7 separate regions of the Homo sapiens genome follow, and all the other regions are reported to be linked to region 4. Evidence: microRNA targets listed by miRTarBase, many of them from high-throughput screens and not tested one by one. Region 4 holds a microRNA gene; each other region holds the end of a gene's coding sequence.

The links. Region 4 holds the annotated microRNA hsa-miR-182-5p (UUUGGCAAUGGUAGAACUCACACU, at 2,034-2,057, opposite strand). A microRNA usually pairs through its seed, bases 2 to 8, with sites in the 3' UTR of a target mRNA and lowers its output. Matches are read on the target gene's strand: a 7mer-m8 pairs with bases 2 to 8, a 7mer-A1 pairs with bases 2 to 7 and ends in A, and an 8mer does both.
Region 1: miRTarBase lists MITF as a target of hsa-miR-182-5p. Seed matches in the 3' UTR shown: 8mer at 2,867-2,874, 7mer-A1 at 3,026-3,032 and 8mer at 3,084-3,091.
Region 2: the mRNA of SIN3B is a reported target of hsa-miR-182-5p. Seed matches in the 3' UTR shown: 7mer-A1 at 3,321-3,327 and 7mer-A1 at 3,207-3,213.
Region 3: the mRNA of TMEM182 is a reported target of hsa-miR-182-5p. Seed matches in the 3' UTR shown: 7mer-m8 at 1,643-1,649 and 8mer at 933-940.
Region 5: miRTarBase lists RBM15B as a target of hsa-miR-182-5p. The part of its 3' UTR that is shown has no 7-base or 8-base seed match.
Region 6: miRTarBase lists VPS51 as a target of hsa-miR-182-5p. The part of its 3' UTR that is shown has no 7-base or 8-base seed match.
Region 7: the mRNA of FOXF2 is a reported target of hsa-miR-182-5p. Seed matches in the 3' UTR shown: 7mer-A1 at 2,574-2,580 and 8mer at 2,370-2,377.

What each region holds. Positions count from the first base shown.
Region 1 is chr3:69,964,861-69,968,958 of GRCh38, forward strand. MITF (melanocyte inducing transcription factor) reads left to right here. Exons shown (of 10, transcript NM_001354604.2): 10 at 1-3,472. The coding sequence ends at 388. Among named protein-coding and RNA genes, the nearest start is that of SAMMSON, 33 kb to the right of the region's middle.
Region 2 is chr19:16,878,138-16,882,237 of GRCh38, reverse strand. It overlaps SIN3B (SIN3 transcription regulator family member B), which reads right to left. Exons shown (of 19, transcript NM_001297595.2): 18 at 3,848-4,055; 19 at 1,889-3,741. The coding sequence ends at 3,511. Among named protein-coding and RNA genes, the nearest start is that of F2RL3, 8.8 kb to the left of the region's middle.
Region 3 is chr2:102,814,055-102,818,154 of GRCh38, reverse strand. It overlaps TMEM182 (transmembrane protein 182), which reads right to left. Exons shown (of 5, transcript NM_144632.5): 5 at 476-3,407. The coding sequence ends at 3,187. Among named protein-coding and RNA genes, the nearest start is that of TMEM182, 54 kb to the right of the region's middle.
Region 4 is chr7:129,768,414-129,772,513 of GRCh38, forward strand. It overlaps MIR182 (microRNA 182), which reads right to left and starts at 2,079; the gene lies at 1,970-2,079. LOC105375501 (a long non-coding RNA gene) reads right to left here and starts at 792. Exons shown (of 3, transcript XR_927963.4): 1 at 275-792. RefSeq lists an enhancer at 2,230-3,093.
Region 5 is chr3:51,393,104-51,397,203 of GRCh38, reverse strand. RBM15B (RNA binding motif protein 15B) reads right to left here. Exons shown (of 1, transcript NM_013286.5): 1 at 1-4,100. The coding sequence ends at 3,132. It also overlaps a transcript of DCAF1 not described here. Among named protein-coding and RNA genes, the nearest start is that of RBM15B, 3.9 kb to the right of the region's middle. RefSeq lists enhancers at 3,397-3,904, 3,905-4,100.
Region 6 is chr11:65,110,011-65,113,995 of GRCh38, reverse strand. VPS51 (VPS51 subunit of GARP complex) reads right to left here. Exons shown (of 10, transcript NM_013265.4): 8 at 3,393-3,514; 9 at 3,215-3,302; 10 at 2,134-2,669. The coding sequence ends at 2,409. TM7SF2 (transmembrane 7 superfamily member 2) reads right to left here and starts at 2,124. Exons shown (of 10, transcript NM_003273.6): 1 at 1,929-2,124; 2 at 1,285-1,481; 3 at 1,131-1,185; 4 at 582-776; 5 at 402-505. The coding sequence starts at 1,980. RefSeq lists silencers at 1,313-1,742, 3,008-3,183 and enhancers at 1,873-1,922, 1,993-2,102, 2,025-2,319, 2,016-2,941, 2,942-3,869.
Region 7 is chr6:1,393,824-1,397,923 of GRCh38, reverse strand. It overlaps FOXF2 (forkhead box F2), which reads right to left. Exons shown (of 2, transcript NM_001452.2): 2 at 2,321-3,228. The coding sequence ends at 3,065. Among named protein-coding and RNA genes, the nearest start is that of MIR6720, 5.5 kb to the right of the region's middle.

The DNA of each region.
Region 1 (4,098 bases), not on the chromosome of region 4:
GGCTCGAGCTCATGGACTTTCCCTTATTCCATCCACGGGTCTCTGCTCTCCAGATTTGGTGAATCGGATCATCAAGCAAGAACCCGTTCTTGAGAACTGCAGCCAAGACCTCCTTCAGCATCATGCAGACCTAACCTGTACAACAACTCTCGATCTCACGGATGGCACCATCACCTTCAACAACAACCTCGGAACTGGGACTGAGGCCAACCAAGCCTATAGTGTCCCCACAAAAATGGGATCCAAACTGGAAGACATCCTGATGGACGACACCCTTTCTCCCGTCGGTGTCACTGATCCACTCCTTTCCTCAGTGTCCCCCGGAGCTTCCAAAACAAGCAGCCGGAGGAGCAGTATGAGCATGGAAGAGACGGAGCACACTTGTTAGCGAATCCTCCCTGCACTGCATTCGCACAAACTGCTTCCTTTCTTGATTCGTAGATTTAATAACTTACCTGAAGGGGTTTTCTTGATAATTTTCCTTTAATATGAAATTTTTTTTCATGCTTTATCAATAGCCCAGGATATATTTTATTTTTAGAATTTTGTGAAACAGACTTGTATATTCTATTTTACAACTACAAATGCCTCCAAAGTATTGTACAAATAAGTGTGCAGTATCTGTGAACTGAATTCACCACAGACTTTAGCTTTCTGAGCAAGAGGATTTTGCGTCAGAGAAATGTCTGTCCATTTTTATTCAGGGGAAACTTGATTTGAGATTTTTATGCCTGTGACTTCCTTGGAAATCAAATGTAAAGTTTAATTGAAAGAATGTAAAGCAACCAAAAAGAAAAAAAAAAAGAAAGAAAGAGGAAAAGAAATCCATACTAACCCTTTTCCATTTTATAAATGTATTGATTCATTGGTACTGCCTTAAAGATACAGTACCCCTCTAGCTTTGTTTAGTCTTTATACTGCAAACTATTTAAAGAAATATGTATTCTGTAAAAGAAAAAAAAAATGCGGCCTTTTCATGAGGATCGTCTGGTTAGAAAACATAACTGATACCAACCGAAACTGAAGGGAGTTAGACCAAGGCTCTGAAATATAAAGTCTAATCTTGCTCTCTTTTATTCTGTGCTGTTACAGTTTTCTTCATCAATGAGTGTGATCCAGTTTTTCATAAGATATTTTATTTTGAAATGGAAATTAATGTCCTCTCAAAGTAAAATATTGAGGAGCACTGAAAGTATGTTTTACTTTTTTTTTATTTTATTTTTGCTTTTGATAAGAAAACCGAACTGGGCATATTTCTAATTGGCTTTACTATTTTTATTTTTAAATTATGTTTTACTGTTCATTTGATTTGTACAGATTCTTTATTATCATTGTTCTTTTCAATATATTTGTATTAATTTGTAAGAATATGCATCTTAAAATGGCAAGTTTTCCATATTTTTACAACTCACTGGTGGTTTTCCGCATTCTTTGTACACCCATGAAAGAAAACTTTTATGCAAGGTCTTGCATTTAAAAGACAGCTTTGCGAATATTTTGTAAATTACAGTCTCACTCAGAACTGTTTTTGGACACATTTAAGGTGTAGTATTAATAGGTTAAAACCAGGCTTTCTAGAAAGAATAAACTTACATATTTATTTTTAGGACATGAAAATAGCAATATTCTTGGAGATTGATAACCATAGCATTAATACGCCCATTATGGTCATTTAAATTGGGGTTTATTTCAGCAAACTTGTTGAATTTATTTTTAAGAAAGAAATACTGTATTGGGAAGTTACTGTTACTTGATAACAATGTTTTAACAAGAAGCAATGTTATAAAGTTAGTTTCAGTGCATTATCTACTTGTGTAGTCCTATGCAATAACAGTAGTGTTACATGTATCAAGCCTAGATGTTTTATACAGATGCCATATAGTGTTATGAGCCAGGCTGTTGAATGGAATTTCTCAGTAGCAGCCTACAACTGAATAGCAAGTGGCATAAAGCATATCCATTCAGAATGAAGTGCCTTAAATATAGCAGTAGTCTTTTTTGGACTAGCACTGACTGAACTGTAATGTAGGGGAAAGTTTCATGATGGTATCTATAGTCAAGACGAACATGTAGCATGGTGCCTATGTAGACAATATAAGAGCTTCCAATTTTCCTTCAGATATTTTTAATATTAAATATATTTTAGTGACAGAGTGCCAACTTCTTTCATCAGGAAACCTTATTCAGGAGGGTTTTTAAAAAGTGTTTAAATGTCAAATGTGAATTGGTGATGGGTGATGGAGGGTTCAGAGAGGAGTGATCGTCAGATGTGTGAATGGACGGTTTAGGTGAAAATAATCAACTGCATAGTTCCCATGCACGCTGGGCAATGAGAATCCTTGGAAACATTGGTGATGCTATCAGTTTTATAGCTTTATTTCTTAAGGGGGTAGGGAAAATTAGTTCCCATTCTTTCAACCCCCTTAACTGTATAGCTCTTTTCCTAGAATAGTGACGCAAATCTGCATGAACAGCTAATTGTACCATAGTGTTCATTGATACAATCATAGCATTGTCTATTTTTCTCTTCATATTTATATGGGGGGGAGGGCGCTGGATGCAAAAGTTGAAGATCGTGATGCTATGATGTTAGTTTTCCTTAGCTGATTTTGAGGGTTTTTAAAAATAAAGCAAGGTTGACTAACCTACGGCCACGGGAACAGGACCATGGTTAAGCAACCATATAGAAAGCTTTGTTGAAAGAAAGTATGGCATCTTGTACCACTGCCCTGACTGTCACAACTCCTAACCTTGCCATTGCCTGCCTCCCCCTCCCCTTCTCCTTAAGAGACAATTTCTGCAGGTGGCAGGTGAGCAAGCCCAGGAGAATGCTGCAATCTTGGGGGTGGTTTTATTTATTTCTTTTTTGCCAAATAGAGTGTGGATTCATTTCAGGGGCTAGCTAAGCCAAGAGGCAGTGGTTTGGGCTTGTTGTTTGTAACAAGAAAATGATCCACACCACTCCCCCGATTCCCGGGTGCAGAATTGTAACTCGGGGTTGGGCCTCTATATGGAGTGACCAAAATGCCAAAATTGTCCATCTGCCTCTGAGTAGGGCAATGGAAATACCAAACCTTCTGACTTTGCCAAAAAGCATACAAGCAACCTGGTCATACATAGGATGACAAAATTCTTTCTGGTTGTTTTTAAACAATAAAGCAATAAGAACAAATACAATACATAGGAAGTTAAAAGCACAAAGGAATGAACTTATTAATATTTTTGAAAAATGCACTGGGAAAAAGTTGATGTCAATAACAGTATAAAACAGCCCTATTTCTTGATAAAAAATGACAAATGACTGTCTCTTGCGGATGCTTGGTACTGTAATGTTAATAATAGTCACCTGCTGTTGGATGCAGCAATAATTTCTGTATGGTCCATAGCACTGTATATTATGGATCGATATTAATGTATCCAATGAAATAATCGACTTGTTCTTGATAGCCTCATTAAAGCATTTGGTTTTTCACATAGTGGTGGCCTATTGTGTTAATGCCAATTTTGAATGCTATCTGCCATATCAAAAAATGGTAGTGCACATTTTCTTCTGATTTAATGAATAACAAATTGCATGAAAATTTAGAAAATGCCAGTAAGTACTTTTTTTGTTTAAAATGCCACTCTAAGATGTTACTTTTTGGTTTTAAACATTTTTGATTACTTTTTGACTTACACTCAGATGAGGTGTAATTATGCACCTTTTTTATCCCCCTCTGAATTTGGGGAGATTTTAAACTCCCAAATGCCAAGACTTCATTTTAGATATAGGAGTTTTATTTAAAATGTTTCATTGAGAGGTGGCTTTAAAAAAGAGAAATTGTCAGAGAAACCCTTGCATATTTACAGAAAAGATATTGGGTTTTTAAAATACAAATTTACAATAATGAAAGCTTAATATACCCAGGCTGCCAGCTCCTGGTTGCCTTTTTTTTTTAATACACTACTTAAGAATCATTTGATAAATGTTGGATTTGAATTGGGAAGTGTCAGACAAAACATGTCTTTATTCCCTAGCTAGACCTTAAACTTCTGCCCTTTTAAAAAATATATTCTGGCTTAACCTCTGGAGAAAATGAGCAAGAAACTTCCTGTAAT
Region 2 (4,100 bases), not on the chromosome of region 4:
AGCTTGAAGCAGGCTTACAGTGGCGTGAAAGCAGGGATACAGAGGCAGGACAAAGACAGTTAATCAAATTATAACAGGCTCATAACTCAGGATTAGACATGACCGTTGCTGTGCAACTCAGATGGCCATTATGTAGGTTTGCCCTAGTGCTTAGCATGGCTTATTCCATGGCCATCACTATGGCACCCAGGTGGCTCTATCTCAGGCTGCTCAGACAGTTTATGACCTTCACTCCACTGCTGATAAAACAGAATATTTGAAGTCACTAGGTGTAGAGAGCAGGAATCTATAAACTCATACCATGAAACAAAGGAAAATTTGTTTTTCTTCTCCCTATGTTGAGGGAGTGCTGGGAGAGGCTCCAGAGCACATTCCTTTGTGTCTTGGCTTCTTAGTATTATTAAGACTTTTCCTGGGTCTGGGCTGTGCCTGTTGCTGCCTCTGAGACAAGTCAGCCTAATACAGGAAAAGCTTAATTCTCTTTTTAATTTTTTCTTTTTTCTTTCATTTCCCCCCTCAGTAGGGGTTCCTGAGACCCTCAGCCACCTCCCCGTACTTGACGGAGGTGGAAGGGGAGGTGCTGGACATGCAGCGGCTTTATTAATGCTGCTGTATCTATCTCTGGATAATGAATGTGGCTCACAGCCACACGCCTCTATGACCTTTTGTTTCCGTGGGTCAGGGGTCCAGCCTGGGAGGCTGGGTCTTTGGTTCAGGGTCAAATGAGGCTGAGATCAAGGTGTCAGCTGGGCTGTGTCCTTATCTGCTGCTCGGGGGCCTTTTCTGGGCCCAAGTGGACTTGGGCAGAATTTGGGTCCTGGTGGTAGTGGTGGCTCTGAGGTCCCCCTTGGCTCTTGGAGGCCACTCTCTGTCCCTTGCCACAGGGTCCCCTCCCCAGCACAGCGGAGACATCTTCAGGGCCAGTGAGGAACCTCTCTCAACTCATGTCATATCACCTCATCAAGGCCATGGGCCCTACTTGAGGGCAGGGGACCCCTCAGGGCAGGGCCACCTCGGAGATCTGCTCTTTGTCTGCTCTCCTGGGACCAGCACAGCCTTTCCCAGCCCCTGCAGCACTTCTGACCAAGGAAAGCCAGTCTGGGGGCCCACAGAGGACCCTGGGCATCCCCAGCCATGGGATCAAGGCAGAAGGAAACAGGGCGGCCTCCGGTCTGGCTTGCCACGCTCCCTGGGAGCCCTGACCCTCCGGTGGGGGTGTGGTCAGAACTGCCAGAGACGCTTGGGTGTACAGGGAGCACATGGGTCACTGGGAGGAAGCTATGGCCCCTCCCCTACAGAGGATGGAGGAGCCCATACTGAGGGGGAGGGGCTGGCCACTTCTGCCTTGGAACCCTCCAGGTATGTCAGCCAGGGGACACAGCAGAGCTGGGGCTTCTGCTACCCGGAAGCAGGTGTGGAGCTTGGGATGCAGACAGGGGGCAGGAGATGAGGAGAAAATGATGGTGAAAGCCAGGAAGTGGGTGGGGCCCCAAGGAGTACAGAGGGTGGTCGTGTGGGGTGGGTGGGCAGGCATGGGCCTGGACGGATAGGTTGGGCATGGGAAGCTTAGAACAAACACCTTAGAGCAAACACCATGATCTTTAAATTGGGTTCTGCATGAGAGACACTCGGGCGAAGGAGACGCTTCTAATTCCCACTAAATGTGCAAATGGAATGGGGAAAGAATATTCTAGAAGACACTCCCATGTCGTGGCGGGGCAGGTGCAGGGTGTGAGATGATCTTGGTTCAAGGAGGGGCTTCGACTCCCCTGGTCCCAGGTAGGCACACCCAGCCACCCCTTGCTCTCATGGGTCCAGCCCACTGACCTGGTGGCAGGAAGTCAGCAAGGCTCTCACAGGAAGACCAACACACCCTCACGGCTTGATGTCAATATTCAATTATTAACTTTAATGTGCAAATAAATAGAAAAGGAAAACTACATTCAAAACAGCTGCAAAGGAAGGACAAGCCCCAGAACAGAAATTCCTCAAGAACGGAAAAGAGGCGCTCCCTAGAAGCATGCGGGGATGGGAATACTGGGAGGAGGGGCTCGGCGGGGTCTCCGGCTGCACCCGGGGCCCAGGTGGCTCTGCCCGAGACGGCCGTGGGCCTGGTACAGGAATCTTGATGGCAAGTTCCCTTCTTAGAAAACCAGGATGTGTACAAAGTGCCTGTGTGACACTTGGGGAGCGGGGGTGGGGAGCCCAGGAGGACGGGTCAGCATCGGAATCGCCCAGCCTGGAGTCAAAGGCATCAGGAGCCTCCAGGTTCCACAGGAAACTTCTAGAAACACATCTCCACTTCCTGGAAACTTGAGTCCAGCTGTTGCAGGATGGCAAGGGTGGCGGTTATTCTGGGCCTACTGGTGTGCAGGGGCCAGGGCCAGGGGCTCTCATGGTCGGGGAGAGAGGCCTGGAGAAGTGGTCCCCAGCCCCAGTCACTTGGGATTCTTGGCACAGAAAGCCTTGGATGCCTCCATGGGACAGTCGCCTCAGCCCCTCACAAAAGGACAACAATGATCCCTGGAGTGGCCGCGTGGGTCCCAGGGTGGGTGGGCGGATGGGGCTCCTTGGGTGGCGGCTGGGACTGTCAGGGCGGCTCTCGGAGTTCCACAAAGGGAGATCTCAGCCCCAGGGAGCCGCAGGACTTGGCTGCTACAGAAATAACAACCACTAAAAGCGAAAGGAATAAATATCTGTGCGTGTATACACATACGCCTAGGGTGCCCACTGCAGGAACACGACTGGGCCCGCCGCCCCACAGCAGGGTCGTGCCGGCTCTGAGGGAATACTGGCTGGGGTCCCTCCCCTTGTGGGCCCAGAGTCCAGCTGCTGGAGTTGGGGTTGGGTGTCTTATCCAGAGCGGGGTCTCCCAGGGCACTGCCCGCCTGCTCCAGCTCTGGACTTCAAAATGGGATCCCAAAGGTTTGGCTGAAGGGTTCTTCTCACTTCCAAAGTGACTGAGGGCCTGAACACCAGCCAGGCAGAGCTGATGCCCAAACCCTCAGATGATGTTTCTGGCAGCTCTGAGAATATTCTGGAAGGACTCACTTTTCAAGCAAGCCTACCCAGGGCTCAACTCCTTCCTTGTCAGGGTCTCTTGGACATGGACCCCCTCCAAAGTGTGGGCCTCAGGAGGGCTGTCACCTGTGACTTTTCCAAGACACGGCAAGAATATGGGGCAGGAGCCATCTGCCTGCCAGGGATTTGGCACATGTGACGGACGGGGACGCAAACATGATTGCTTGTTCCTCGGCCAGCACGTCCACCCGCCCCTGTGGTGGGGCTGAGCCCCAGGGCTCGGGTGCAGGTAGCTCAGGTTTGGCACACAGCAGGCCCACAGGAGACCGGGAGCCACGGGGGCGGCGTCCTGCCCTGGAGTGCGCTGTCCGGCAGCAGAGGGGCTGGGAGATGCCTCTCACGTCGTTCAAGAAAACGGCCCCGACACGACCAAGGCCGAGGGCACGTCTGTGCTCTGTGAGGCGCCTGCCCGGTGCCCATGAGGGCGGGTCAGGGCGAGGCCGGGCGGCGGCTGTACTGCACGCGGTAGCGGGTCACGGGCAGGCCGTGCACGTGCACTGTCTCACACAGCGTCTTGCAGGGTACCATGTCCTCGTCCTCCTCACCCATCAGCCAGTCCTGCACCAGGCTAGCCGCCTCCACCGTCACATTGTCCTCCAGCCAGCGGCTGTGCCACTCCTCAAAGTGCTGGTGGTGGCGGAGCAGGACCAGGGGCTGCACCTGTTGAAGAGGCCGGGTGTCAGGGCAGCTGAGGGCTGGACCCCCAGGGCCCCAGGACTTGGGGTGAGGAGGGGCATGTCGGGGCAGCCCAGGCCTCCCCTGGCACCTGCTTGGCCCGGCAGAGGGTCCCGCGACGGTACATGTAGTCCTCGGAGTTCACGATGAACACCATCTTGTGAGTGCTGAGCTTGAAGCGGCAGTCCACGTCGCAGGCGCTCTCCACGCCCACCAGCCGCTTCCAGGAGCTCCTGGCCTCACCGCGCAGGGCCCGCGCCTGCTCGCTCTGCCACCGGCGGCGGAACTTCTTGAGGTTCCTGGGGGCGAAAGGAGGTGGAATGGACTCTGGCTCTCGGCATTGT
Region 3 (4,100 bases), not on the chromosome of region 4:
AATCAAATCTGGTTTTGATTTAGCTCATCTTATATTTTCTTCAATGTAACCCCATCACCATTGGTCTTTCTCACAATTCCACCGACCTTCAGACATATCCAGCCAATTTTACTGGTATCCAATATCTGCCTAACACCTCTGACATTCTAAGTCTCTTTGTAAGTCCAACATGGTTACTTTTAAGAAAATAGAAATCAAATTACGTGTTGAACTGAATAAACCACCATCCATTGAGTGAAACAGTTAAAGTGGCACTCAGGGAAACAACAATAATAGATTGCTGTTCCCAAAGATAACTGATTTTTTTTTAACTTGCTTAGCTCAAATATATTGATTTATACCATTCAATGTATCTCTTTCTACCCAAACATATAATACACATGCACACTTACATACACACAAATATACACAGACATGCACCCATATATATTGATGATAGACAGATAAATAGATGAATAATTACCAACACTGACACTTCCTCCAATATATTCCTTTATAATTCCATTTAATCTTCAAATTTAATAAATATATTTATAGATTAGTAATAAAAATGACTAAATGAATACTAACAACACACTTGATATTACTTTTTTTAGAAAGCCCTACCATCAACCCTCAAATTGTACACGATCATTAAACTTCTCTGTGTAGTCTCTCCAGCCAATTCCAATGTATGTGCAATCATCCACCTGAGTGAATTAAACCAGCTGAACAAATACAATATGGAGAGATGATAGCTTTCACCAAGTCCAAGAGCATAACTCACTGCCCTTTTTATTCACTCTTTCTAAAAGTGTAACTGAAAAGATATCCTTGATAAATTGAAACTTTATGATGCAAAATCAACATTTTTCAAAAAGATTCTAACACAGTTTAAAGGCTTCTAAAAATTAATAAATACAACCAATAGAGAAATAAACATAACATGGACATTTGGCAACACAGTATCTCAAATCAGATATAAGGTTGCTACAATAATGTACTATATAACTCTGCCATTTTTAAGTATATTTCACTCATTGACATAGCAATCACAACTCTCCTTCATTCCTTCAGAGGGTTGCTGGTAAATTGATCAAGAAATGTGCTTGAAATGTATTTGATTGATGCATTACAACTATAAAATAGTTCCAAAGTGCAAATCTGTGTAAAAGTGTCATACACATCAGCTATTCAGCCAATTGTCATATAAAAAATATATGGTAGCCACTTAAGTGTACTATAAAGTGAGGATAACCATCTGAAATTTATAAATATTCAAGCCTTTGCCGAAAGCAGCTTGTATGTGAAACTTAAATGGCATACAGTACACCAGAAAAAGGCTCCATTCCAAAGTACTACAAAAAAGAATTGTATTTACAGATGACATGAACTAATCAGATACATCCAACATCGTCTGGAAAACTTAATGGCATGCCATAACTTAATATCACAGTCAACATGCACAACAGACCTCATAATTATTTTTTCTAATAACAAAGCCAAAAGCAAAGAAGTAAATGAAGCAATATAAAAATGAAACAGTGAAAGACAAAGGGAAGTACCACAAAAACGTTTCAATGATATCACTGAAATGACTTGAGAAACCAGTTAGGCCTCTGGAGCTTTATTATTATTATTATTATTATTATTATTATTATTATTGGCAAGTCCTGTCATGAAAATGCCCTGAAGATTCAGACCTTTGCAATTTTTCCAAAGCTCCTTCCCACTGGAACAAGTCTTAATGGAAAAGCACAAGATGTACAGAGAAGACTGGGATCACCTCTCCCACGGCATTGGAAGAGCTGATGAAAAGGAGCAGTTCCTCTATCCCAGAGCATCTTCTGGGTGGTGACTTTTTTTGCCTGTGGGCCATGCCTCTCTGTCCTCACAACAGCTGCAGAATGAAACACCGCACCTCCAACAAAGCTCACATACCCTGCCGAGCTCCCCTGCGATGGAGGCTTCCAGAATGCAAATACGAGCTAGGCATCTCAGATGGATTTGATTTCAATCAACATTAGTGCCAAATGAACATCTTTGATATGCAAAATGTCTATGCTACTGAATAATACAGAATCATCTTTCCCCACAAAAACTTTCTTCTAGGAGGTTAAAGGAAATAGTCGATCTGTAAATGTTAATATATCTATTGTAAAGATGAAGAAATTGAGGGACAGTAATTAAAGGAATCAAATGATCAGAAGAACTGGAACCCATAACATCTTGGGGAAAGTTAATATTTTATGGTCTTTAATAAAGCAGGGCTATTATAATCCTCATATGGAAGTACGTTGAAAGTTTATATCTAAAAAATATTAAAATCACATTTTATCAATAAATTTTCACATGCTGAATGATAGCAATATAATTTTTAAATGAGAATTTTAAAATATCAAATAGAATTATGGACCAAGCGGAAATGCTTGGTTTTTACATATTTTAAACAATATTACATTATACAATTAACTCACTTTAAGTTCATAAAAATTCAATCTACGTTATACATAATTTGGTATGCAGATTTGCTAGTTTTAAATGTAGTTTAAAGTTTATGTAAGCATGCACAATTAAGTGAATAAAACTAGGTAACCAAACCACTGTTGGTGAAAAAGCAAGATAAGTACATGCTCTCAGTCTTGTTTGTTGTGGCCCATTTTAACTGGTGAGTACATGGCTCCCACTAATTAGAACAACTGCTGTCTATTTTTAAATTCATTTGCTCACAAGAGCCAGTGAATGTGTATGTGGATATTATCTGTGTGGGCAAGAAACAAAATAAATTCTCTGACAACCTTGCCCATTCTTAATTATTCTTCAAGGATTTTTTTTAATTAGCAGAAGTGAATGCCAAGGAGACTTTAAGCCAAATCTATCGAGATTTTCCCCATGTCATGGTATTAAGCTATTATCAGGCCTTTGCGACCTGCATGAACTCTAACATGTTCAATGAAAGGGAGACCTGTTTACCTATTCCCTAAAGAACTAGGTCCTTGACAGCACTTAGACAAGATAGAGGCTTGCTGGTGTCTGGAGAGATTCTAGGACCTTCTTACTGAAGAAAATTTTAGTAAAATGATTAATTTGAATAGCAACTAAAAAGTTATATCTACTAACTTTATGCTGGGATCAATGAAACAAAATGGAAAAAAAGTATTCCTTGTTTTAAAATCTCTCAAGAAAATACTTGTGGCAACAGTTGATTTAGTGATGTATCTGAATATGCCATCCAACAACCAGAAATAGTAATCCAGCTAGCAAAGAAAAAAATATCCCAGCTGGGGCCAGGAAAAATGACCAGCCATACAGAACAGAAGGGGTGAAATCCAGGCAGTCCTTCATTTTCATGTTTCGGTAGCTTTCCATGTCAGCCACTGCCTGGACCCAGATGACATACAGCATCACCACCAATGAAAATAGGATGCCTGAGAAGGATGAAACAGAAGACTGTTAGCCTTTCTGAAGATGTTTTCTCAAGAACGCTATCTAAACCAATCATTGACCGGATGACAAGCTCCTGCAAATACATTTCTAGCAAAATCAAATACTCTACGTCAGACCTTTTATTATGTACTTTATAGATATTTCTTTTATCTTTCATCTTCAAAGCATTGAGAGGAGGGCTATAGTAGCCTAAGAACAGCAATCACTGACAGGTATTTATTGAGTGTTTCCTGGGTGCCAAGGACTGTAGTAAGTGCTTGTGAACATTAGTGAATATCTCAGCACTTGTAGAATTTATATTCTAACTTTTTTTTTTCTTTTTTACTGCACAAATGGTTTGGGATGAGCACTATACTATGTTATTTCTTTCAATACATAGAATAAACATTGAAATAGGTACACTTACCACCTGGTTTTAGATATACACAGACACAGACAGTGGTTTTCAGAGCTGATTTTCAGCCCGGGTCTTTCTGACTCTTGTTATACTATTATAACCCAGCTAACTAATGCTGCAATTAAATATGGTTATACAAATAGAAACCAAAGTAAGCACTAGACAAGAACGGAGATGAAAACACTGAACAAACATAAAAGAATATACGTGATTCTTCAGAATCTAAATATATATATATATATATACACACTAAAGATTGATTACAGCATAGAGAAAA
Region 4 (4,100 bases):
GACCATCCTGGCTAACACGGTGAAACCCCCGTCTCTACTAAAAATACAAAAAATTAGCCAGGCGTGGTGGTGGGCGCCTGTAGTCCCAGCTACTCAGGAGGCTGAAGCAGGACAATGGCGTGAACCCGGGAGGCGGGGTTTGCAGTGAGCCGAGATGGCGCCACTGCACTCCAGCCTGGGCGACAGAGCAAGACTCAAGTCTCAAAAAAAAAAAAAAAAAAGAACAGAGAGCAGAGCCGTTTCAGGCCCTGGTCTCTGGCAGACCCCTACTCACCTTCCTGGGCATGTATCCAAGGTCCTTCTCCCATGGCACCTGCTTCCTCTGCCATCGTGGACTTAATGGCCAAGTCCAACTCCTCCTTTCATTCTGCACACAGCCACAAGAGCCATCCAACCAGAACACACATCTGATCACACCCCCTCTGGCTGCGTGGCTCCCATGGTCCTTAGGTTCGGGAACAAATGCAGCCTTAAGATGGCCAGCCTTCCAGCCCGGCATAGACCCCAGGAAATCTGTGTGCTCTCCAACAGGAGTCTCCTCCTCTCCCTGAGGGTCACTCATCTTCCAGGACTCCCCACCCCTCCCTGTGTCCCAGCAGGTGCCGTGTGGCCCTAGCTCAGAGCAGCCTTCTTCATGCCCTGCAGAGCCAGCCTGTTTACGCAGCGTCTGCTTGTGCTCACGGCATGTAACATGCATAGTGCAGCCTGCGGGAGAACAGTTCCCTTCTCTTTCTGTCTCAAGAGCTGCCGGCTCAGACCTTCCCTACTCGGCCTGTGTCTCCCCAAAAGAGCGCAGTGAGCTGCACGGAGCCGGTTGAGCCTGGAGCCACCAGATAGATGTCTGCCCCGCCCTGCCCAGCCACAGGGGTTGGTGGGTCATGGAACCACACATGACCCTCCGAGGGCAGGTGAGGAGAAAGGAGGGCTGATGGGGGCTGATAGAAGGGGTTTGGGGGATGGGGAGCACCAGAGAAGGAAGGCTGGCAGGCCGAGGGCTGGGGAGCAGGGGATAGGCCTTCACATTTGCATTTGCACCGTTCACTGCGGGCTAGGCCACACTCACACACACACTTACACCTGCACCCACACCCTCTCAACCACACGCGCAGCTCCCACTCTGGCTCCTGAGCCATCTGCAGGCCAGGAGACTCCAGGGCCGGGCTTCCCCAGCAGGTCTGCCCACCAAGCCCAACTCTCTGGGAAGTGCCACTCACTCTGACCCTGTGGCCCGGCTCCGGCTCAGGGGAGCTCCCACTGCAAACACAAGCTCTGGGAAGGTGAGTGGAGGCTTTGTCTCAGGTTCTGAGGCGTCAGGAGGAACAAATCCATGAAGTGGAATGCTGGAGGCATAGAGGTCCAGCCCATGGGCCACCTGCACCCCAGGGGGCCAGTCCCGCATTTACACAAGTGACTTGTACACTCTCCTCCTGCACATCTCTGGAGGCTTATCCCATCTGGCCCTCCATGGCCTCAGCAGGATCACTGGATGTCCGTGATGCACGGCGTGCCCTCCCTGCCCTCATCCTCCCAGCCAGCAGCCCAGGAAGGAACCACTCTTAGTGACCTGTGGAAGGTTAGGAGACCCTCCCTCGGGGCCCTAGAGCCCACCCTGAACAGGGCCTTTCAGGGGAGAGGGTGAGAAGGTTCACCACCCAGAGGAGCCAGGCCAAAGCCCTGAAACCAAACATCCCCCAGTTCCCTCACTCCTCGATTCAGACTCCAGGGCCACAGCCTGGAGCAGAGCTGGACCCCAGCTCCTCTTGGCAGCACCCCTGAGGGCCAGAGAACGGCTTCCCAGCTGACTTGAGGACCTGTGACCTCAGGGGGATGCAGGGAAACACAGAGTGTCACTTCCAGCTGCACCTGCCCTCTGCCACTACCCAGCAGTCCGGGACCTGAGTCCCCTCCTTCCTCGCGGAGAACAGCAGGTCCAGCATGGCCGGCCCTTCCCTCGCTGGCTGTGCACAGGGTGCCGGCTGAGTCCTCGCCCCATAGTTGGCAAGTCTAGAACCACCGGATCCTGTTACCTCACCAGTGTGAGTTCTACCATTGCCAAAAACGGGGGGAGGCAAGCAGCTCCCCCCAGGAGCTGGGGAGGCCTCGGTCTGTGCTGAGGAAGAGACAGAGACAGTTAGGATGGTCCAGGCAGGGCCAGGACAGAGGCGCCCATCCCCGCAACTGCGACAAGGTCCTTCCTGCAGGGTCGCCCTGGTGTGGAGGCCCAACCCCACAGTCCCCCTTCCTGCTGGTCCCGGTCCCTCCTCAGCCCCCTCCTCTCCTCCCTTCCCCTCATATCTGTAACCTGCAGTTCCTGTGGGCAGGCATGGAGCAGACACCATCCCTAGGGCAGCCACCAGGATCCAACCCAGGCCCTGAGCTGTGGTCACCACTCCCAAGGGAACCCGAGGGCACCTCCACTCCCAGCACCTGACAGCAGGGACTCTGGGAACCAGCACAAGCCAGGCCAGAGAGCCCTGCCCCTGGGCGCTGGGGAAGAGATGGCTAATGTGGGCTGGGTTTTGCTATTTACTAAGCCCACGTCACTGCTCCATTTAATCCAGAGAGATGCTCCCAAGCCATTCCCTAGAGCCTAAAGCTCACAGGCTGCCCACCCCAAAGGGAGAGAGGGAAGTTGCTACACAAAACATTCCTCCTCCCTATCAAGTCCAAGGGAGGAAGAGCATTCCACTTGCCAAGGCCTCTTCCCTAAAAGCAGTGGACAAACAATGGCGCTGGGACCTTCTACCCAGGAACGGGAACAGGCAGCCTCTGGGGCCATCAGTCAGTGGCAGGAATGGGCCAAGCTAAAACCAACCAAATATCTCCCATCCAGACGGCACTCTCCTGACCACAGAACCCACTGCACACACCCAGCAGCCCTGCACACACCCAGACCCTTTGAGGGCTGGCTGCGATCTGATTCTCGGAGTGGCATTTCCCCAGACCGCCAGTCACTTACCCAAGGGCAGCACACTTCCGTGTTCCCACTTCCCCTGATGAGGCCAGGTCCTTTCCCAAGGGGTGTTGAAGTGTCCTGAAGGCATCTCAAGCCTTTAGCAAGGGTGCAGGCTGCCTGCCCCCAACCCTGCATCCCCATGCCTCCCCTGCAGCCTGGAAGGGACTCTTTGCCCTCAAGCCTCCTGGGCAGTATGGGCCCACCATGAGCAGGCTCATTTTCCGAACATGCCCCGGCTGGGGGAGCAGCTGACTTGGCAGGGCCCCCAAAATGACACCGCTGCCGCCGCCACCGCCACCACCCCTCCCATCCTGCCTGCCCTTTAGGGTGGAGTGAGATGGGATGATGGCTTAAGATGCAAACAGATCCAGGCCATCCCCAGGGCCAAGTCCAGGACCTCGGTGGCACCCAGACCGGACCGGCAGCCTGGGCTTGGGCGCTGGGGAGGACACCTCTGCCCGAAAGGAGAGGCTTGGTGGGGAAGGTTTGGCCTCTGAGCAGAGGCACGACTCTGGAAGCCTCTCCGAGGGTGGGCGGGCCTGCTTTGGGACATCAGCAGCACTGGGCTCTCTTGGTCCCATGGAGCCCCCAAGCCTGGGACTTGCTGAGGAGGCCACTCCCACCCTCCTCCAGTGTGTATGTGGGGGGTCCTGTCCTCCTCCCCACCCAGCTGTGGCCGCACCAGCCGGGCTCCATCGGCAGCCTGGGGCTGCAGGCGATCAATGGTGCCGGATCGCATTTCGACCCGCCTGAGGCTGGGCAGAGGCTGGGATAATGGCCTGGAATGAATAAGCAAATGGAGTGGTGGGGGAGGCGGGGAGTCTGGAAAACCCACTCATACAGCCCTCCAGGGAGCTGCCCCTCCTGCCGCTCCACGCACCCAGACAGGCCAAGCAAGGTGCCCGACATGGGGGACGCCCTAAACCCGGGCATCTGGGAGCCGCTGCTTTTGACAAACAGAAAAACAAAGCAAAAAGTGCTTCTCAGTGACCCTCCCGCTCCAGCAAGAAAGGCCTTCGCTGCAGTGGGACAGCGTTCCTGCCTGACACTGGACACCATTGGACAGATCATGGGCAGAACCTTTTGCCCATCTCACAGACCTTCTGGAAGCCACACAAGGGAGGATCCAGGACCTGTTCTGCAG
Region 5 (4,100 bases), not on the chromosome of region 4:
TTTGATTTTGCCCAAATAACAGCTGCTCAGTTTGTTACATAGGTATTATCCAGCTAAAGTGACTTCTCTCCCTTAACAGAGAGAAGAGGGGACAAATTTGGTTGTGAAGTAAACAAGAAACACAAGACGGCTAAAACTCTCCAGGGGCAGGTAAAGCCCTGCTGGGCTCAGAAGCACTATAGAATTTGCTGTACACACTGAAGTGGGTCTGTGTCACACAGGTATTTCTTGGTCCTCTGGAGAGCAGAGGACTCACTCAGCTCTTTGCTTCATGCCTCGCTTTAATGGTAGTAAACACTTAACCAGTGGAATAGTCTGACTGCTGGTACTGATGGCATCAGAAGAAAACAGGTTAACAATCAAGTAGTGAAAGCACTATATTCTAGTCATTAACTCAACGGAGCCAGTCTCAACTCTGCTGGGAGCACCCACAGGTCTCTGTGGGGGAGACAGGGACTATAACAGGGAGGCAGAATTCAGGTTGGCTTGACAACACACCTTAGGAACATGTGCTAAGGGGCTAAGGAGGCATCAGCTGTCTTCCTTATTCTACCAGGGCTGAAAATCGGAGTCACTTAGGAGGCAGCATGAGAACAGTGGCACACCACCAGTGAGGCACATGTTGCCTTTTTGTCTTTAAGCAACACCTTAGACAGGGCCTGAACCCTGGGTGGGGGCACTGGATGCCTGAAGTAAGTAAGTTTTCTCAGTGGGGCAGTCTCATAAAATCACCAGGACATTGACCACCTGACCTCCCCTAACTAGTGCTGGCCAAGGCCTGAGAGTTCACAGAACCTGCTAGGTCTTAAGAGCCAAAGGAAGGAAGTGGTTGAGGGCCAGGAAAGAGAAGGAATGTCATGCCAGGGTGTTACTCCTCACCAAAACTTGGCAGTTCTTTTTGGGGCCATGGGACACCTTTCTCTGAAGAGGGGTTGGATAAGGCAAAGGTTGAAGTGTCTTCTCTAGGCACGTTTTCTAGCATGTTTCCTTTTACTTGGTTCTGTCTCACAAAGCTGGGAGGTAGATGATTCTTCCGGGTCCTGAGCACCTGCTTCATGAAGGAAGATAGGTAGCCCAGAGAAGAAGTTTTGGACTTAACAACATACCAAGGCAGCTCTGGCCTGTGACTCAGGCGTTTGTTGGAGAGCTGCAGGAAAACCACTGCAGTGTGCCTGCAACAGGACAAGACCCACTCCTGTTTCTGGCGGTACCAGCTACCCTGGAATGGTGGCGTGTCCTGCTGTACCCAACTGACTTGCTTAGGTACCTGGCAGCTGTGACCACAGCTCAAGTAAAAAAACAAAAACAGGCAAATAAATAAACATGCTTAACATGTCTTTGTGTTGCTGTTTTGTTATGAACGTGCTTGCTCTCTTGCGAGGCACCTGTCCATTCCACATCACCGAGGGGTCTACGAGAGCACTGCCAAGTGTTCCTGTGGACCAGCATGACCTCTCCACAGCCTGCAGTGAGCCCCAGCCTCTAATCTCAGGTGTCACTCATGCTACCTTATCCTAGCTCCGGTAAGGGAGCAGACCTGGAGAGAGGATGCCACGGCCAGCAGAACCTGGAGTTCCTGGTTATCATCTAGGGGCTCATTCGCTTACCAGAGCTTCTGTTCTCCTCAGCCCTGACAGTGTTCCCTGTTTGAACATCCAAGGTACCAGACACGCTGAAGAATGGCATTTGGGGTGTTCCATGGTGACAAAACTGTGTGCTCTGGTTTTCCTCCCTGGCCCACACTGTCCGCAGTACCTTCCTTACTTACTTGAGACAGGGAAGAAGACGGAATCTCACCCTTCTTCCCAGCTAGAGGGTACCTCCGCATCCCTTTCCTCCCCAACTGGCTTGAGTGGCTTCAAGCTCTAGCACTGCCTAACAAACAAACAAACACCTCAGTGACTTGTGATTTCCCCCCAGAAAAATATCTATTAATTATTTCCCAATGGTCTCCACCTCGGCATCAGGGCACAAGGTGTAGGCACATGCTCTGATCTTGCACCTAGGAAACCGTCATTATCAAGGGCATCCCCTAGTCCACTGTGCTCCCCGGTAAGTACTTCAGTCTAGAGGTTCAGTATCCCCCCACAAATCTCTAGGTATGACTGGACACGGGCCTGCTCTATTACCCATCACCCCTGAACGACCAGAGAAAGCCAAAAATCACAAACAACTAGGCAAAGTTCATGAGTAAATCCAAGGAAGGCTGCCTCCAACCCTCCATTCCAGTATTTGGACTCCCGGGCCCCTGGGAACCTGAGGCAACTCTGTCTCCCAACACTGGCTATCCCTGGGCTGAGTGAGGCTAGAAAGTAGGCCGAACCAGGAGCCTGGACAGATCAGGGGCCCCGAGACCCCCTGGCATCAACAGTGCACAGCTTCTCCTTGTACAAGACTACACAGCTGCTGAAGGCTACCTGCTGCCAAACATGCTGAGTGGGCACTCTGTCCCAAACAAACAGCCACAGCTCAAACTGATGATGATGGACACACACACGGTTTAAGGCAGAAAAAACCATCAGTAGCTGCTGACCACAGGCCTTGCGCTCACCCCATCCCTTCCTTTGCATGGGCTCTACTCAGGCTTGTGTGGCAGCGTCCACAGCCCAAACTGAAGCTTGCCTGCTGTCAGCCAAGATAAAAATGAGTGTAAGTAGAGTCCAGACTGAGCCTGAAGAATTGAGAGGCCGAGAGTGACCCATGCAGCAGTGGTGCTGGAAGGATGACGTAGGGCATTCGTGTACATGCACTAGGGATGTCTTCGATTCTTTTAGCTTGATTGATTAAACCAGGACTCTGAACAGGTTTAAAAATCCATCCTCTGTCAAAGGTTTTACTGACAACTTTCCATACAGTTGGTCAAAAAATAAAAAAATACAGAACCACAGCAGACAGTATCTTGTACACTAGAAATCAACATAACCGGATTCCCTTCTCATCGTTTAAAAAAAAAAATCCCCCAAAATCTAAGAACTTAGTTTTGGTGGTGGACAGGACTTTGATCCCCACCCAAATGAACCAAAATAACCCAGGAGATAATTCAAACCAAAGTGGTAGGGTAGAGAGGGGATCAGATTTTAAAATAACTGCTTTTGTGACACAAACATGACGCTGGGAAAGACAGGCTTGGGCTAGGCAGTGTCTCTGACGATGACTATCACCATGTGTTCTTCTTCTAGCTTGCCCAATGTCCTTAGTGCTGACTGGAGGTACTGCTGGGAAAAGTCGCAGGGTGGGAAGGCGTAGAGCATGCCTGTGCCGTCTCTGCCCTTGGACCCCCCCACTGGCAAGCTGATCACCCCTGCGGCCTGCTTCTGTTTCAAGTAGGAGACCAGGTTCCTGAGAAGCCGCCTCTGCAGACCGGGCTCTACTGTGGGCATCCCCTCAGTGCCAAGCCCACTGGGGGTTGCCTGGGTGGCTAAGAGGACCGCATAGCCGTTGGGGCTCCCCTGCTTGATGCGTCGTGTGACCTCGTCAAGCTTGGGCTGGTCCAGTCGAAGGCGCTGGGCGATCTTCAGCTGGGTCAGCTTGCTCCCAGAAGTGTGGTCTTTGAGGAGACTGCTGATCACCCCCTGGTCCCCCTCTAGGATATGCATAGACGTGGGGAAGCAGCTGTTTTTCAACACCAGAAGCCCATTCCAACCCAGCTGTAGTGTCTGAGCGTACTCTGAAAGATTCTTCAGCTTTTTGGTCTCGTGTTTTGGCTCTTCCAGAGGCTTGGGCTCGGCCTCTGTGGTCCGGTGATTGCGCTCGCTGTCTCTTGCCTTCTTCCCGTGGGAAGAGTCTGCAGCCTCGTGGTGGTGGTGGTGGTGGCCCCGTTCCTCAGCCCCATGTCTGCTGTTGCTGAGGGAGTTGCTGCTGGACTCCTTGGTCCCTTCACTGGAGTGGTTCTCCTTGCGGCTGCGCTCAGGGGTGCGGTCGGAGCCCCGCTCTGACTGCTGCCCACTGCCCTTGGTCCTACTCCGTTCCTCATATGGTGAATGGGTTGTCCTCCCACGGTCACTGGAAAGGCTTCTCCGTTTCCGCCTCTCTTCCCAGGGCTTGGGCAAACCACGGTCTCCATCTGCCCCCCAACGCTCACCACTCCGGCTGCGCACTGA
Region 6 (3,985 bases), not on the chromosome of region 4:
ACGGGTAGGTTGCTAACCCCAGCGATCAATTTCAGGTTCTGCACTGCCTTGACCATCAAGCAGCATGCGGTCACTCCCTGGAAATAGATTCTGTGCTTGACTGCTGTTGAGAATTGCACGTGCTCTCCTAACGTCATCCCTGACATGCTGTATATATTTTACTTATTTTTTTCTGTCTTTCCCACCAGAATGTAGGCTCTCTGCAGCAAAGATGCTTTTTTGCCTCTAACTTTATTTTTGTCTCCCAGTACCTAGGCACAGGTGGATTGAACAAATGTTTGTGGAATATGAATGGTTAATGACTCGCATCTGCACAGTTTTGGCCCTGCCCTGCCCAAGCGCTGCTCACCCACCCTAACCCTCCCCCTGGCCTGAGGCCAGCTCAGTCAAGCCCAACATACCCAGCCGATGAGGCCGGGTCGCAGTTCACAGAAATATTTGAAGTCGAAGAAACAGATACGAGGGTTGAGCTCTCGTCCCAGAAAAAAGTCGTAAATCGGATTGCCTGGAGAATATTGGAGAGTGAATGTACAGGCAGACGCCCCAATCTGCCTCCGTCTCCACCCCAGGACCCCTCTCACCTGAGTTCCCCCCAGGTGCCAGGGCCGAAACTGGGGCTACCTGCGCCTTCATGTAGAGAAAGAGGCTGAAGATGAAAGCGGTGAGGGTGGCGACAAACGCCAAGGGCAGGAGCATTTCCGGGAGCGCCCCCAGAGGCAGCCCCGCTGACATCCCCAGCCCCACCAACAGGGCTGTCAGCACCAGGGCCTGGAAGCCTGAACCACAGCGCACAGTGAGCCCTGGGGCTGCGCGCCTCCACATCCCCACCCCGCAAACACACGCAGAGCCCAAAACTCAGGGGGGCCACAGACCCTGCCCCAAGCATTAGGCTGCCACCCTGGCCTTCAGAGGATCACCCCAGCCACTGCTGTGGTGCACGGAGTAGCAGTAAATGGGGTAAGGCTGTGGGGACGAGGGGCATAGGGAGAGCCCCCGGCGTCTGTCCTGGGCGTAACAGAGGCACACAAAGGAGCCTGGGGTGGGGGCCAATCTCCGTGGACCTCCCCGCTAGGCCTGGAGCTCCACCCCCGGCCGCTTAACTCCAGCGCGAGGGCCCGTCCCCTAGGCACCGTTAATAGGATAGCGCAGGCGACTCTTGTCCTTCAATTCCTGCCCCTCGGCCACCTGCGGGTCCAAGGGGGCTCTGATAAGGCCCGGGGCGTCCTTTCCCTCGCCGAGCCCATTCGCTTCCCTCCCCCGAGCGTCCGCGAGCGGGGCCCGCACCTTGCGCGCCGGCAGTAGGTAGAGCGCCGCCTGCAGGCCGAGCCAGGCGAGCCACAGCAGCAGCGCCCGTGGGCTCCACAGCACCTCCAGCCCCGGCAGGGACGCGGGTGGACCCAGCAGGCGCGCGGGGCCCGAACGGGCCGCCAGGAGCAGGTGGAACATGGTGGCGGGCAGCAGCAGTAGCAGAGCCGCGGCGCCTGCGGGAAGGGCCATCACGTCGGGCGTCCGCCCCTAGCCCCCCAGCTCCCCGCCGGCCCGCACGGGCGCCCTGACGTCTCTGCGGGACCCTCTCGGCATTCCCAGAGTGCGCCTCCGCACCCCGTCCTCAGCCCTCGGCCCCCAGGCACCCCGCTGCCTCCCAGTTCCCTTCCCAGGCGTCCATCTTAGTCCCCCGCCCCCAGGCCCCTCGAAGACCCTCCTCCTGCTCCCAGTCGACACCATAAATCCCCGTTCTGCAGCCCCCAGAACCGGCCCCTCCTCAGCTCTCCCTCTCCAGACACCCTTCGCTGCAAACCCCCGGGTCCCTCTGCCTCCGACACCCCCAAAGCCTTCCATCCTCAGATCTCGCCCCCGCTCTTAGTTCACCCGCTCCAGCTCTCCTTCGCTTAGCCTTTGCCCCAGGTCCCATCTCTCTGCCCCATTACCCAGGGGCCCTCCGAATTCCAGCGGGGCCCGGGGGCCCTGAGTGGGGGCCATGGTCTCCGCTCCGCCGGAGAGAGAGGGCGCTCACAATAGTCAGTCAAGGAAACACTGTCCGCCCCATTTCCCAGGAGATGGACTCGGCCGCGCGGAGGATCCGGCCCCGCGGCGCCTGCACCTGCCTGGACACGGAACGCAGACAAGGACCGCTCTCGTCCCAGGGTTTTTAAGTGGAACCGCCCCCTGCCCATGCTGGGCCCAGCACACCAGCCAATCGGCGCTCGGGGGCGGACCCGACGCGGGCGCCTCAGAAGCCTCAGCTTCAAAACCCCGCCCCCGGAAAGGCCCGCCCAGCAAGCGAGAGGAGGAGGCCACACATGTTTATTAGGCCGGTCCTGACACCTGCCTGCGGGGAAGGACCACCGAGACCAGATCCTGGGTGCCATGGGGTGCAGGGACAGACCGGTGCATGGCAGCGGCTGCGCCTAGCCGCGCTCGCAGATGACCTCAACCACACTGGGCTCCATGGGCACAGGGTCTGGGCAGCGCAGGGCAGCAGAGGCCACCACTTCGTCCAGCAGCAAGTGCACGAGTTCTTCGTCGGCCACAAAACGCCACAGGTAGAGCTGCAGAAAGTGGCAGTCCACTTGCACCTGCTGCAGCCCGAAGCGCCCAAAGGTGCGCAGCCGCACACACTCCAGCAGCGTCTTCAGGCTGATCTTGATGATGCCGGTCAGCACCGACACCTGCAGGCAGGGACACAGGGATGCAGCTTGGGGACTGCAGGTGTGTGTGGGGGACACCCAAGTTCCAAGCAGGGGCCCGGGAGACATACGATGGAAGTAGCTGGGATGAGGCAGAAAGTCTCCGGGGCCAGATAAGAAGGGAGGGATACAATATTAGCGCCGTCATCTGGAGGGCAGGGGACAGGTAGGGCCCAGCAATCAGAGGCATCCCTGAGCTTGGAGTGAGGCGGGGCAGGGACCATGGGTGAACAGAAAACCCTGGGGAGGACCCAAGACTACTGTGGGGATAAGGACAAGGGCAAACAGTAATCCCAGGTCAGCACCCAGACTCAGGCTGGGCATACACCAAGACTGGGACAAGGGCTGTGGGATTTGGAGGCAGGGCACTCTGTACTACCTAAAAACAGCCCTAGAGACAGAGACTGGAGGGTCAGGGTCACCCCCAGTTGGTCACAGAGTCCTGGGGCTCCTTGGGCAGGTGTGGGGCTGCTCCAGCCAACCCTCCCCGGGATCCCTGGAAGTCTGAGTCACGTTGGAAGTCGGACCTTGTTGAACTCCACAGGGCTGAACACATCAATACGTTCAGAGAATAGCTTCTGGATATTGCTCAAGAGGTTGGTGTCCATCGGGGCACTGGATTGGGGAAGACAAGGAATCAGAGCCCGCCCTGCACCCTCGCCCTCTTTTGTCCCTTCCCCCTGGGGCTCCCCTGACCAGCCAGACCTGGGGGTATAGCTGGGGGCGTAGCGGCCCTGCTGCCGAGAGCTGCTGTACACGGAGAAAGTCCTCTTGCTGGAGTCGCTGCTCTGGGCCTTGCGAACACCCTCTTCGTACAGGAGCCCCACCTGGTGGTAAAAAGAGGTACTGCAAGGAGGCCCGAGTCAGGGGAAACCACCAGCCCATCGGTGCTGAGGATGCCCTAAGTCAGCTACTCAAGCATCACAAGGATCACAGGGTAATCACCGCGGGGCCCGCTATTTAGTAGGTACATGGTCGCTATTTATAGAACCAGTGGAGTGGGGCAAAGGCAGGATACAAGAGTTGGTCTGAGGTCTAATCTTCAGCACCAGCACCAACCCTGCCCTGACTTCCTGGGTAACCCTGAGCCTCTGCTTCTCCACAGGTAAAATAGGGGCGAAGATGTCATAATCCTGGGCTGAGAAGGAACAAGACCGTGGACATAGGCACTCCCCAGCCCGTTTGGTCTTCATCCTTGGAGACTTGTTCCCCTGGGGTTCCCTCACGGACGCCCTGGCTACAGAACTGGCCCCGTGAGAAGCCCAGATACACATGTCCCCTCCTCCAGGCAGGGACTG
Region 7 (4,100 bases), not on the chromosome of region 4:
TTAGTTCATTTATTTTCACTTATAAAGGTGTAGCACTTTTTTTCAATTTAATCACTAACATTTGAGCAACTTTTAAAGCCAAGCACTGCATGTTTCTCCAAAAAAAAAAAAAAAAGGGTGAATATAAATGAGTCTATGTGTACGTGTGTGTCTTTGAGGGACAGTTAGGAGAGAAACAATTTTGACTCAAAAGGAAACAAAACAACAGCCTTATTTGGGGAGAAATGTAGAAATGAAGAATATACGTAGCAAGTCAGGGCTTTAGCATCTGCTGAGCATGGTCAGGCCTGTTCTTACTGAATTGTGATCTGGTTTCAGGATGAGACAGTAGGCGAAAAGAGTAAAATAGAAAAAAGCCCACGCCTGGGCAACGAGGCAAGACCCCGTCTCTACAAAAATTAAAAAATTAGCCAGGCATGGTGGTGCGTGCCTGTGGTCCCAGCTACTCAGGAGGCTGAGGCGGGAGGATCACTTGAGTCCAGGCGGTGGAGGCTGCAGTGAGCTGAGATCGTGCCATTGCACTCCAGCCTGGGCAACAGACCACGACCCTGTCTCAAAAAAAAAAAAAAAAAGGAAGAAGAAGAAAGAAGAAAGCAAAGTATTTCCTAAAACTGGAAACCATAACTTATGAAAGTGAGATACTTAAAAATGTCTCTATTGGAAGGCACCACAAAACGGGTCATTTTGTCAAGTTCTTGCGCAGCTTGAAGGAATCATTGAGTCGCCTTGGGCGGATCTCCTCGCGCCACCAGGGGGCGCGCTGGGCCTCCCAATGCGGCCAGGCAGGCAGACGCAGTTTTCGTCTTTGAGGTCCTGTCATTCTCTGTATAAACAAGTTACGTTCAAGTGTTTAGGATATAAATTACGACCATGCCGGCTGCCTCGGAAGGAATGTAAACACAGCACTGTGGTCGGAGCAAACTCTGAAACTGACTTCATAATTTATAGCAGGCCCCCGAGTAGCTCACTATAAAAGAAAATAAAAAGGCCTTATTTAACTGCAAATATGATAATGGAGAGACAAAAAATGTTTAAATCACTTCTTAATTTTAGAAGATATAGGAAGGAAACCTAAAGATTAGAAAGATGGTTAAGACTTTCGGAAACAAGATGTTTCACTCAGGAGACGCTCTTTGCAGTGAAATTCACTTAGAATACAAAAACCCTGGGGTGTGAAACAGTTCCCTACGAATACCAAGAGTCTGGTGACTGACTGGGAGAAAGACCTTTTAAGGGATAAGAAACAAAGGTGAGTTTTCCAATCAAGAAAGAAAAAGCAAAAAACAAAAACAAAACTCCAGCCCTGAATTGGAGAGGAAAATGCACAGCATGATTGGAGCAGATAATTTCTCTGCTTCTCTCAGACCCATTGTCCCCAACATGGCTCGTGATGGTGAAGGGCTGCTGGGACAGAAGGTCAGTCCTCCTGCCTAGTTGGCCCATTTTGCTCTTCCATCGGGAGCGTCACCAGCTCTGCCTGTAACACTGGTGACTGGGAAATCTAGCAGGAACAGAAAAAGGGGCTGAGGGGTTCCCTTGTTAAATCCCTGGTTAAAAGGGAGGAGTGGGGAGAGGAGGCCGGGAGGAAGGAAGGGCTGAACCGGCTTGCTATGTGCCGATGCTGAGCAGGGCCAGCCAGGCTCTGAATTGGAGGGTGGGACAGGCCGCAGCCACAGAGCAACGTGTGGGGAGTCCAGCTTCTGTATTAAACTCCCCAAGGAAGTTAAACCCCCTGCTGGGAGCCTGCCCCCTGCAGCTCAGGGATCCCCCTGCATTCTTCAGATCTGAACCCCATTTCTGACAGCATGTGACCGCCACCCATAACAAAATTGCAACGTGCAAAGGGAAGAAGCAGGGTGCTGTTCTTTGGGCATCCAACCCTGGAGGGGGGCTTACCACTGTGCCCCACATCTGTCAACCCATGCCAGTCGGGAGGGAGAGAGGGCAAAGGGCAGAACACTCCCCGGGCACAGGAAAGAAAACAGAAGGGGCACAAAATTGGTTTCCTCAAAATCAAACCCTGGTCGGTATCTTGCCTGGTTTTCTTTCTAGTTCCTTTCACCTTCTGGTTTTTGTTTTGCCAGAAAAAGCTGGGGTGAAGTAAAGAAAGAAATAACAGAAAACGTTTCTTCCACTGTTTTTCTCCTGAGAAGACTCACAATCAGAACCTGGCCTGTGTTACTCAAGGCACAGACCCCACACCATGTCAGTTACACCACTGGAGGGGGTGTGGGTAGAGTTGCACAGCTGCCTGCCGGGGAGGAGAAACTGGCATCCATTGCTCTCAGGGTGCCCGAAGAGAAAATCAGCCCCTAAAACAACTATTTGTTATATACATTTTATTGAAAAAAAATTTTACAACAAAATATTTTGGCAAACTGTAAAAGTATACATAAGTGCAAATATATCCTCCTTTTAAAATACAAGCAAAGTGTGAGTATACACGGTCATAAAAATATCTTTAAAATATGGTGGTAGAAAACAACCTTGTAAAAACGTTGTATTGTCACAATACTGAAAACCACTTTCTTAAACTAGACACATTGTTTCTAAATAATTCCTTAATAATGTTCTTTGGCACCTGTATCCAAATGTAGTGTCTGGGGAAAATGACTCTCCCACTCAGCTAGGCAACAAGAAGAGGCTTTCTTGAAATCTTGTGCTTAGCACTGCCTTTTTGAAAAGCACACAAGTTTTCTTAGACACACACACACACACACAACTTGTCTGCTTTTTTCACACCCTGATTACTGAAGGCAACGAAGATCCCACAGATACACGTTGATGCCTTACGCATGGCACATCTTCCCACCTGAGTCTGCCCTCTCCCTCATGTGGGAGCCTGCAGGTATTCAGATTGGGGAACGCTACCTTGCCAGCGGTTGTCCTTCTTCCAGCAGTAGGCAAATAACAGTGACCAACGCGATCCTGGGCATTCTGGCTAAGTGGCAGGTGTGTGGCTTACTGCTATCCGCGTGCATGTGACTTGAATCCGTCCCAGTTTCTATCTGCCCCCTCTGAGGAGGGGAGAGGAGAGAGCGGCCATCGCTTGGCCTCTTTCCGTTCACATGACGCAGGGCTTAATATCCTGACAGACGCTCTGGTGGTGATGGTGATAATACGACCCGCTAGCTGAGGGATGGAAAGAAGAAATCCCATTGAAGTTGAGGACGAAATCTTTTCTGTCACACACTGGAGTAGAGTGATGCTGGTAACGGGGCAGTCCCACTGAAAGAAGAAAGAAAAAAAAACCTCTTCAGAAACAAAGTCATCCAGTGGATGGCAGGGTGTCTTATTTTGCCTCAGAGTACAAAAGGTGCTGCTGTGCCTTTTAGTAAATTGCTAGACAGCTGGTAGAGAAAGCCCAGCTTTAGAAGTAGCTCAAACACACCAACTGCACGTCATAGAATTGCTTTGGAATCATTATGTTTTGTTTTGATGCTCGCACAAACACAGAGCAAGTTCCCCCTCGAGGGGGATTCTTATGTCCTGGAATTCCAATTTTATTCTCTGAGGCTGGGGCGTGCACTTTAATCTCAGAATGAGCACAGGTACCGGACAACTAGACCCAGACTCTGGTTCCGGGTCTCTCCCGGCAGAGCTCCTGGCCTGTGCTGCCCTGAGCCCTGGCTTCAGGGAGGGCCAAGCACCCTACCCCAGAAACACCACTGCGGCCTTCTTTCTGAGCCTTGTTTCCCAACTAACTGGGCCGGTCACAGCAGCGAGCGCAGAGGACTCCCTGTGCCAAAGGGGACGATAGAAAACAACCCAATCGCAAGATGAAGGGATGGGGCAGAAAAGCACGCCTCTTCTCCTGCCCCTCCGCAGGCATCTTCGTGGGTCCCGAACGTCTTAGACTTCCTCTAGAGAAGCCGGGACTTCAGGGCGCAGAGAAATGCCCTTTGGTCCGAAGCATCTGGCAGCGCGAGGAGTCCCTGAGGTAGCCCCAGGCTGGAGGGGGACAGAGAAGGCCTGGACCCTGCTCTCCCGGGGCGGCTCCCCGGTCCCCGGCCTGCACCGGGCCGCTTGACCTCCACCCGCCGCCGGCTTTTGCTTTTGCTTTCTCGGCGCCTCCTGGCCCCGGGGCGCAATCGGCCCGC